Regions from separate parts of the Homo sapiens genome. Here region 2 is linked to region 1. The links come from fine-mapping of genetic effects on gene expression. A gene starts in region 1. The other region holds a variant in brackets. All regions are shown on one strand. Distances are between the middles of the regions.

What was found. PIP is the estimated chance that this variant, and not a neighbour inherited with it, causes the effect.
Region 2: its variant is the best candidate, but not a certain one, in a credible set for the expression of PROSER1 in whole blood (INTERVAL, PIP 0.87).

What each region holds. Positions count from the first base shown.
Region 1 is chr13:39,035,823-39,041,199 of GRCh38, reverse strand. It overlaps PROSER1 (proline and serine rich 1), which reads left to right and starts at 3,111. Exons shown (of 13, transcript NM_025138.5): 1 at 3,111-4,002. The coding sequence starts at 3,958. It overlaps NHLRC3 (NHL repeat containing 3), which reads right to left and starts at 2,744. Exons shown (of 7, transcript NM_001012754.4): 1 at 2,477-2,744; 2 at 1,912-2,064; 3 at 1,489-1,636. The coding sequence starts at 2,560. RefSeq lists a silencer at 3,401-3,630 and an enhancer at 4,773-4,882.
Region 2 is chr13:39,055,817-39,061,193 of GRCh38, reverse strand. All of the region lies in intron 1 of LOC105370169 (a long non-coding RNA gene), which reads right to left. Among named protein-coding and RNA genes, the nearest start is that of NHLRC3, 20 kb to the right of the region's middle. The variant AG/G (reference allele first, on the strand shown) is at 2,911.

The DNA of each region.
Region 1 (5,377 bases):
GGCTAATTTGTAGCCATATTTTTCATTAGAGGAAATTTATTCCTTTGGGAAATGGGAATATAAAACTGTCTTCAGATCTCTGGGTAGAAAATTAGCTGTAATGGAAAAAATGAAGAGATCGTCTGTGCTCTTTTTATTTCTGGGAATCAAGGAAGTCTTATTTTTAAAAATCACATGAATAAAATGAACTCAAAGAAATGGTCTTTAACAGTGGATCTTCAGGAAAAAAGTGAAAATAGACTCTCATTATAGTATTAACAATTCACTCAGTGATAATCTATAGACTTTTTTTGGTTGAACCAGATTCATACTATGTAAAACACAGCATGAAATAAATGGGCCATCAGCTGAGGCCCAGAAATCTTATGGGTTCTGAGAACAGCTGTGATAATGGCACTACTTACAGAAACTGAGAACTCATTATCTCTAAAAAATGGTATCTGAATCAGCCAGGACTGTAGAACCAGGATGTCTCTCAATTCAAGAACATAACTGGGCCAAGGAATACTAGAAATAATGTCTTTATAATCCCATTTCTTCCTGAATTCCTAGGGTAATGCCAGGATATCTCAGGTATTGCCTTGTCTTAAGCTACAGCCACAGGTGAATTGTTTCTCTGAAAACTTTCTCCATAGCTGCACATTCAGTTGTGCTCACTTCATTTTTCAGCTTTTTCTACTAAAAATATTTGATGGCAGGAAGATTTCAGACATGCTTCAGTCAGTAGAATTTCAAAAACATTAACAACAGTTTCTGCAATCTTTGCACTTTGAGCAACAAAGCAGTTACGATTTCACAATCTTTTATGAAAGAAAACTGGAAAAGGAAAATAAGAGTCAAGGATTCCAGTCATTGCTTTCAGAGACTGCCACTTTATTTGGCTTCAGTTTAGAGTTATTTAATCTGAGAAGAGCAACTGATGCTTTAAAGAGGAAAAGACCCTAGACAAGTTCAAGGAAAGATCATATTAACAGGCTCCTTGTCAAATTTCTTTCTTTTTTTTTTTTTTTTTGAGACAGAGTGTCGCTGTGTCACCCAGGCTGGAGTGCAGTGGCGCGATCTCGGCTCACTGCAAGCTCCGCCTCCCGGGTTCACGCCATTCTCCTGCCTCAGCCTCCCCAGTAGCTGCGACTAAAGGCGCCCGCCACCACGCCTGGCTGATTTTTTTTTTTTTTTTTTGTATTTTTAGTGGAGACGGGGGTTTCACCGTGTTGGCCAGGATCGTCTCGATCTCCTGACCTCGTGATCCGCCCGCCTCGGCCTCCCAAAGTGCTGGGATTACAGGCGTGAGCCACGGCGTCCAGCCCTTGTTAAATTTCTTAATTCCACAGAAGTACAAAATAAAGTTTGTTAAAAACATGTGATTTCATGAATCGTTAAAGAAATTACAATTAGATTCAGCAACTCTGATTTTAAACAATACAAACAAGGACATGTGCAAAGATGTGATTTCCAGTAAGATAATTTAATAGATATTACTATACATACCACTTCCTACATCCGTGATCCAGACGGATTGTTCATATAGAGTACTGGCTGCAAATATACCATGAGGTGTGTCAACTGTATAATTCCAGGCTCGTAGGAAATATCCATCCTCTGTGAACACTAATATCTTTGGGATGTTATCCCCTCTCTGAAGGTATACAAAAAATAACTTCTTAGGATCAGCTTAAAGGAAAGGTAATCTGTATCTTGGCGAAGAAAAAAAATAACTGAGAATTTTACTACAAAAACCACTTTCAAAATCTAACATATCTTTCACATTCGAAACCAAAATACTTGAGACCAACTCAAAAATAAATTGCACAATTAGCATGATATAAACGCATATGGTCAGTTACTACAGCAAGACAGGAAGGCTGTTACTTCCTTTGTGTTCATAATTTTTTTAAATCTCTATTTACTTACTTGACCTATGTAAACCAATCCATTGAGGGAGTCAACTGCAACACAAAATGTTGTTCCGGTAAAATATTCTGGGTGCTTAGGCCAACCCACATCCAGCCGGTAAAGAATTTTCTCAGTTCTCCAGGAAACTGCAAAAGTAAAGTTCCTCAAAACCTTAAACAAAATCAGACAATTCAGATTTAGTTTACCGTCTAGGTAAGAACAAAAAAAGGGCGGGGGGGCCGGGTAACAGGGCTTATTTTTAAGCATGCCTTGACAACTAGAAGTTTGCTGGACTGAAATAATTCCAAAGAAATGAGCTTAGATGCCTAAAGACCAACACGACCACAATACAAGTCTGCAAATTATTTGAGGATGTAGTAAGAGTTGGGAAAGAGGAAAATGGCGATGTAACATACACAAATTTTTAAACTCAAAGGGTCAAGGCAGTTTGGACCCAGGTGCAGGCTTTGAGACAAGCTACTGAGGGAACCAGGGCCTGCCACCTCCATGCCACGACCGTGGCGACGCCTCCCAACAGGGCTACCCGCACACCCGACAGTCATTTCCTCACTACCCAACTCACTGGAGAGCCACAAAAACGCGAATGCAAAACCAAAAATGCAAGAAAGAAGCCAGCACCGGCTACGCAGACCCAGAATCTCGCCATGACCAGACGGGAAGCCAGGAGAGGGAGGGTCCGCAGGTGTCTGGGGGAGGACCTGACAGCCTCAGGCTGCAACGGTTTGCAGCGGCACAGAGGGTCTGCCCGGGGCCCGAAGACCCTATCTCCGGTTTCCCCTCCCTGGATGCACGAGCTTTGAGTACGAAAGGGAACAGAGACCAGGGCGAATGAAAATCACAGAAGACCAGTTCCGGACTTCGTGTGCATTTCGGGGTCCCCGCCCTCATGTCAGGTGCTTCGGGCTGACCCAGTGACCACCCTTTCCCGCCCTCAGGGCAGTCCGCGCCGCTGACTTTCAGTGGCCACCAAAGTATGGGCGCCCGTAGATATGCCTTAATCGCTCGCCATTTATTCTTTTTAATCCAGAGGGCAAAATCAAAACATCGCACACTCAGACACGAGGTATGGTGGGGATGACATTCAAAATAATGACCGCTAGGCTTCGGGAAGGATTTTTGCCACATCCTATTCCTACCATCCAGGCATCCGCTATGGATGCCTATATTCCCACACCAGGACCCCACCTCTGGCTTTCAGGAAAGAGGGGCCCAAGCTGGCGGCGCAGTGTTGAGTTTACTTGGGCGCGACTGGCTTTATTGTAGGTCCCCATGAGCTGGTGGGGGCTGTAGGGGTAACCAGGCAGGGCGTCTGGCGCTGTTGGGGCTGCGTTTTTCCGGAGTCCCCCTATGCGAGGCCGTGCCCCTCTTCGCCCGGCTCCTGGTGCTCCCCAGCCGCCGGCCCGCTCCCGGAAGCTGCAGCAGCTGGTAACAAAGAGCCTGCCGGGCCGCCTGCTGCCGGGGCCGAGGTATCCAGGAGTCGGGCGGAGCGGCTGGGGATGAGCGCGAGCCGGACCATGCGTCCGGGTTCGCGGCGGTGAGGGTCGCGGCCGGCGGCCGAGGCGCAGGTGCGGGTCGAGAGACCGGCGCCTCCCTCCCCGCCGCCCGTGGACTCTGAGCGCAGGTGTTTCTACTCTGCCGGCCGCTCCACCTGGGAAAGCGCCTTCAAGAGCTACCTCTGGCGGCACCTGGCCCTCAGCTGCAGGGAAACCGCACTCAAACCTGCCGCCGAGCCCGGGTTTTTCTGCAAAACTCAGAGGACCTGGCTCTTGCCCGAGGTGCCCTGAACCATTGTGTGAATAAGCTGGGGAAGCCTGACTGGAGTGTTTTTTCTTTTTAATAAAAAGAGTTTTTCTGAATCTCAATTTTTAGAAATTTTTTTTGCGAAGTTTGCAATACTCTCTACCTCTTCGCATCCTCTCTTGCTCGTGGAGTCTTTTTCCTCCTCAGCTATAAATATTTTTTACTATCGGCGGAGCAGACCAGGGATGAACGTCTTTTAATTGCAAGTATAACTGTTAAAACCACGTCGGGATAGTAGTCAAGATGGATAAAAAGTCCTTTGAAATGGTGCTGGATGAAATTAGAAAGGTAATTAGACCGATTCCATGAATTATTTTATGAGATGAATTCTCGTGTTTTAGACTCTCTTTGAGGTACTGTATGGAGATTGTGCAGAATAAGGGTCCTAGGATTGCCAAATTGGTTTGAATTTTCACGTGTAATGGAGGAGTTTATATCTTGATACGTTTCCAGTACAAATAGAAATTAAGTTACGTTAACGCCAAATTTGAGACTCAGCACGGTGTCGTGGGAATTACATTTGTAAAGCCCTCGGTTCCAAAGCCGGCTTTACAAATCCGTAATAGCTCTGTACTTTTTGGGTAAGGGGTTTAATATTTTTGAGTTTATTGCCTCATCTTTCAGTAACACAAGAGTGACTGAAAACGAGAGGTAATACGCAGAAAGTTTCTTTTATGGTAGTTATTATGATGGGGTTTTCAAATCTAAGCATAAGGTAGAGTATATTTGTTGCGTTGGCCATGCAAAATTCGTGTCCTGATGGTAAGTGTGGCATTAAGTTTAAAGTCACGTTCTTAGGAATTGGCCGTCAATAACTTGAGCTTCAAAACTTTTTTCTCCTGCTTTCCAAGTTTTTGCTGCTTTTTGAGGCTGTTGTGTGGATCGCATTTCCCAGAGTGAACCAGACAGCAACAATTCTGGAAGGTAGTCTTGAGCCTAACAATATCTCAAGCACAAAAATACCGAGAAGTTACTTATTTTAAAATGTAAGGACTTGATGTACCATTGTTACATCAACACACGGTGCTTTCCTTCGGCCTTCCGGGCAATTATTCTTTCGTCAGCTGCATACCTTTACGACCCTTGACTGAAACGGAAGAAATTGTTGCCATGTGCTCTGGTGCTTATTTCAGTTTACAAAGCTATTATTAAAATTGTCTCTGGTCTTGCTGTTTTGCTTTGTTTTTATACAGCTTTTTTCTTTTTTCAAATTGACGTGTTTAAGTTTTCATATTTGATAATACTGAACATTCTTTTTTGAACAAGTTCTGCTTTTGCAAACCTAAGTGTCCAATTAATTTTTGAAATAAAATATTGGTTTGCTAATTATATGCCTAGAAATTTGTCACAATTTGTTCTTGGGCTGATTTTTAATTACTTTTCATGAGAAAATAATTGGTGAGTCCAAGTAGACCAGCAGATTTTTACTTTTGGAAGATACAGGGTCTCAGTGTGCATATTCTCTTCCTGGTGTCATAAAAACGTCACAGTAAATTCTAAAGAGGGGAATAGGAAATTTTCCAGATATGAAAGTGTTGTTCACATGAGATGGCAACTTAAGTCTGTATTTCTGGTCAGCAGTTAAAATATATCTTCTGCTGGCTTTGCCGAGTGATTAGACACATCAACATTGTCATGGTCTATTAAAATGGAATAAAATATT
Region 2 (5,377 bases), 20 kb before region 1:
AAAAAGAGAGAGTAAGCAACTTGGAAAACATATTTGAGGATATAGTCCACAGAAATTTCCCCAATCTCACTAGAGAGGTAGACATGCAAATTCCAGAAATCCAGAGAACACCTGCAAGATATTATACAAGACAACCATCCCAAAGACACACAGTCATCAGATTCTCCAAAGTCAACAGGAAAAAAAAAATCATAAAGGTGGCTAGGGAAAAAGGCCAAGTCACTTACAAAGGGAACCCCATCAGGCTAACAGCAGAGTTCTCAGCAGAAACTTTACAAGCCAGGAGAGACTGGGGATGTATATTTAGCATCCTTAAAGAAAAGAAATTCCAACCAAGAATTTTATATCCTGCCAAATTATGATTCACATGCAAAGGAGAAATGAAATCCTTTTCAAACATGTAAAGACTAAGGGAATTCATTACCACCAGACCTGCCTTACAAGAGGTACTTAAGGAGAGAGTTCTAAATGTGGAAAGGAAAGAACAATATCTGATACCACAAAAACACACTTAAGTACATACACAACAGATCCTACAAAGCAATTACATAATTGAGTCTACAAAACAACCAATTAATAACAAAATGACAGGATCAAATCCTTACATATCAACATTAACCTTGAACATAAATAGTCTAAACGCCCCACTTAAACGGCACAGACTGTCAAGACCCAACCGTCTATCTTCAAGAGACCCATCCCACGTGTAAAAACACCCATAGTCTCAAAATAAAGAAATGGAGAAAAATCTATCATGCAAACAGAAAGCAAAAAAGAGCAGGGTAACTATTATTACATAAGACAAAACAAGCTTTAAACCAACATAGTCAAAAAGGACAAAGAAGGGCATTATATAATGATAAAAGGTTCAATTCAGCAAAACATAACTATCCTAAATACATATGCATCCAACACTGGAGAAGTCATATTGATAAAACAAGCACTTGTAGAATGGCAAAAAGACTCAGGGCTGGGCGTGGTGGCTTATGCCTGTAATTCCAGCACTTTGGGAGGCAGAGGCAGGCGCATCACCTGAGGTTGGGAGTTCGAGACCAGCCTGACCAACAAGGGGAAACCCTGTCTCTGCTAAAAATACAAAATTAGCCTGGTGTGGTGACACCTGGGCAACAAGAGTGAAACTCCGTCTCAAAAAAAAAAAAAAAAAAAAAAGCCACATAACAATATTGGAGGACCTCACCCCACTGACAGTGTTACACTATCAAGGCAAAAAACTAACAAATACATTCTGGACTTAAACCTGACACATGACCAATTGTACCTAATAGACATGTACAAAATACTACACCCAACAACCACAGAATATACATTCTTCCCAACTGCACAGGAAACACACTCTTAAGATTAACCATATTTGGTTATAAAGCAAGTCTCAGTACCTTTTAAAAAATTAAAATCATACCAACCATACTCTCCAATGACCGTGCAATAAAAATATAAATCAATACCAAGAAGCCCTCTTAAAACCACATAATACATGGAAATTAAACGACTTACTCCTGAATGACTTTTGGGTAAATAATAAAATTAAGGCAGAAATAAAAAATTTCTCAAAAATTAATAAAAACAGAGACACAACATACCAAAATCTCTGGGATGCAATGAAAGCAGTGATAAGAGAAAAGTTTACAGTACAAAATACCTATATCAAGAAGTTAGAAAGATATCAAATTAATAATCAAACATTGCCCCCAGAAGAACTAGAAAAACAGGAACCTCAATGCTAGCAGAAGAAAACTAAAATCAGAGCAGAACTGAATGAAGTTGAGATGCAAAAATACACACAAAAGATCAATGAAACCAAAAGTTAGTTTTTTGAAAGGATAAACAAGATTGATACACTGCTGTCTAGATTAATAAAAAGAGTAACAATACAAATAAGTAGAATCAGAAAAGACAAAGATGACATTACCACTGATCCCACAGAAATACAAAAGATCCTCAGAGACTAACTACTAAAACATCTCCATGTACTCAAACTAGAAAATCTAGAAGACAGCCTGTGCAACACAGTGAGAACCCATCTTAACAAAATATTAAAAAGTTAGCCTGGCATGGTGGCATGCACCTATAATCCCAGCTACTGAGGAGGCCAAGGCAGGAGAATCACTTGAACCTAGGAGGCGGAGGTTGCGGTGACCCAAGATCGCGCCGCTGCACTCTAGTCTGAGTGACAGAATGAGGTTCTGTTTCAAAATAAATAAATAAATAACTGAAGGAAAAGGAAGGAGGGTAGGGGGGAAGGGAAGGAAAGAAGGAGAGAGAGAAAGAAAGAGAGAAAGAGAGAGAGAGAGAGAAAGAAAGAGAAATAGAGAAAGGAAAGGAAGAAAGGAAAAGAAAACAAAATCTGGAAGCAATGGAAAAATTTCTGGAAACACACAACTTCCCAAGATTGAACGAATAAACTGAAACCCTGAGAAGACCAATAATGAGTGCTAAAATTGAATTAGTAATAAAAATCCTACCAACCAAAAAAAGTCCTGGACCAGATGGATTCACAGCTGAATAATATCAGACGTACAAGGATGAGCTGGTATCAATCCTACTGAAACTATTCCAAAAAAAATCAAGGAGGAAGGACTCTTCCCTAATTCATTTTACAAAACCAGCATCATCTTGATGCCAAAAATCTGGCAGAGACACAATGAAAAAAGAAAACTGCAGGCCAATATCCCTGATGAACACAGATGCAACAGCCCTCAACAAAATACTAACAAACCAAATCCAGCAGCACATCAAAAAGTTAATTCACCATGATCAACCAGACTTTATTTATGGGATGCAAGGATAGTTCAACACACACAAGTAAATAAATGTGATTCACCACATAAACAGGATTAAAAACAAAAACTATGTGATCATCTCCATAGACCAAAAAAAAAAAAAAAAAAA[AG/G]CCTTCAATAAAATCCAACATCCCTTCACAATAAAAGCCTTCAACAAACTAGGCACTGAAAGAACATACCTCAAAATAATAAGAGCCAGCTATGACAAACTCATGGCCAACATCATACTTAATGGGCAAATGTTGGAAGCATTTTGCCTAAGAATTGGAATAAGACAAGAATGTCCACTCTCACCACTCCTATTCAACCCAGTACTGGGAGTCCTAGCCAGAGAAATCAGGCAAGAGAAAGAAATAAAAGTCACAGAAATAGGAAATAAAAGAAGCCAAACTATCTCTCTTCCCTGATGATATGATTCTATACTGAGAAAATGCCAAAGCCTCCACCAAAGCCTCTAAGAATTGATAAACAATTTCAGTGAAGTTTCATTATACAAAATCTGTGTACAAAAATTAGTAGCATTTCTATACACCAATAATGTTCAAGCTAAGAGCCAAATCAAGAACACAATCCTATTTACAATAGCCTCAAAAAGAATACAATACCTAGGAATGCATCTAACCAAGGAGGTGAGAGACCACTAGAAGAACAACAAGTGCACTGAAATAAATCAGTAATGACACAAACAAATGGAAAAACATTCCATACTCGAGGATGGGAAGAATCAACATCATTAAAATGGCCATATTGCCCAAAGCAATGTATAGATTCAACACCATTCCTATTAGAGCACCAAGATCATTTTTCACAGAATTGGAAAAAACTATTCTAAAATTCATATGGAACCAAAAAACAGCCTGAATAGCCAACACAATCCTAAGCAAAAAGTACAAAGTGGGGGGGCATCACATTACCTGACTTCAAACAATATTATAAGGCTACAATAACCAAAACAGCACGGTACTGTTATAAAAATAGACACATAGACCAATGGAACAGAGTAGGAAACCCAGAAATAAAGCTGCACACCTGTGACCATATGATCTTTGACAAAGTCAACAAAATAAGCAATGAAGAAAGGACTCTCTACTCAATAAATGATGCTGGTATAACTGGCTACCCATATAGAGAAGAATGAAAGTAGACCCCTATCTATCACCATATGTAAAAATTAACTCAAGATGCATTAAGGACTTAAATATAAGACCTCAAACCATAACATTTCTTGAGGAAAACCTAGGAAATACCCTTCTCAATACTGGCCTTGACAAAGAATTTACAGTTGTCTTCATAAACAATTGCAACAAAAACAAAAATTGACAAGTAGGACCTAATTAAACTAAAGAGCTTTTGCAAAGCAAAAGAAACTATCAACAGAGTAAACAGACAACCTACAGAATGGGAGAAAACACTCAAACTATGCACCTGAAAATAGCCTAATGTCCACAATCTATAAGGAACTAAATCAATAAGCAAAAAACAAATAGCCCTGTTAAAAAGTGGGCAAAGGATATGAACAGACACTTCTCAAAAGAAGACATACAAGTGGCCAACAAACAAATGGAAAAATGCTCATCATCACTAATCATTAGATAAATGCAAATCAATCTCACACACGTCAGAATAGCTTTTGTTAAACCGTCAAAAATAACAAATGCTGGTGGGGTTGCAGAGAAAAGGGAACACTAATACACTGTTGGTGGGAATATATTAGTTCATCCACTGTGGAGAGCAGTTGGAAGACTTCTTTTTTGTTTTGTTTTGTTTTTTTAGACAGAGTCTCGCTCTGTTGCCAGGCTGGAGTGCATCGGCGCGGTCTTGGCTCACTGCAACCTCCGACTCCCTAGTTCAAGTGATTCTCCTGCCTCAGCCTCCCAAGTAGCTGGGATTACAGGAATGCACCACCACGCCTAGCTAATTTTTTTTTTTTTTGTATGGAAGACTTCTTATGGAACTAAGAGCTGAACTAGCATTTGACCCAGCAATCCTATTACTGGGTATATAACCTAAGAAAAATAAATCATTCTACCAAAAAGGCACATGCATCCATGTTCACTGCAGCACTATTCACAATAGCAAAGACATGGGATCAACCTAGATACCCTTCAATGTTGGACTGGATAAAGAAAACATGGTACACATACACCAAGGAATACTATGCAGCCATAAAAAAGAGTGAAGTCATGCTGTTTGCAGCAATATGGATGCAGCTTGAGGCCAGTATCCTAAGTGAGAGAATACAGAAAGAGAAAACCAAATACCACATGTTCTCACAAGTCGGAGCTAAACAATGGGTACACACAGACATAAAGATGGGAACAACAGACACTGAAGAATATAAGAGGGAGGGGGTTGGGAGAGGGAGAGGGCTGAAAAAGTACATATTAGGTATTACCCTTACATCCTGGATGACAGGTTCAATTATACTCCAAACATTAGCATCATGCAATATACCTTTGTAACAAATCTGTATATGTAGCCCCCCAGAATCTAAAAGTTGAAAATATATATAAACAAGTAAAATAAAAGGCATGATTTTGATACATAATTGCACTAATCTATTTAATAATATAGTC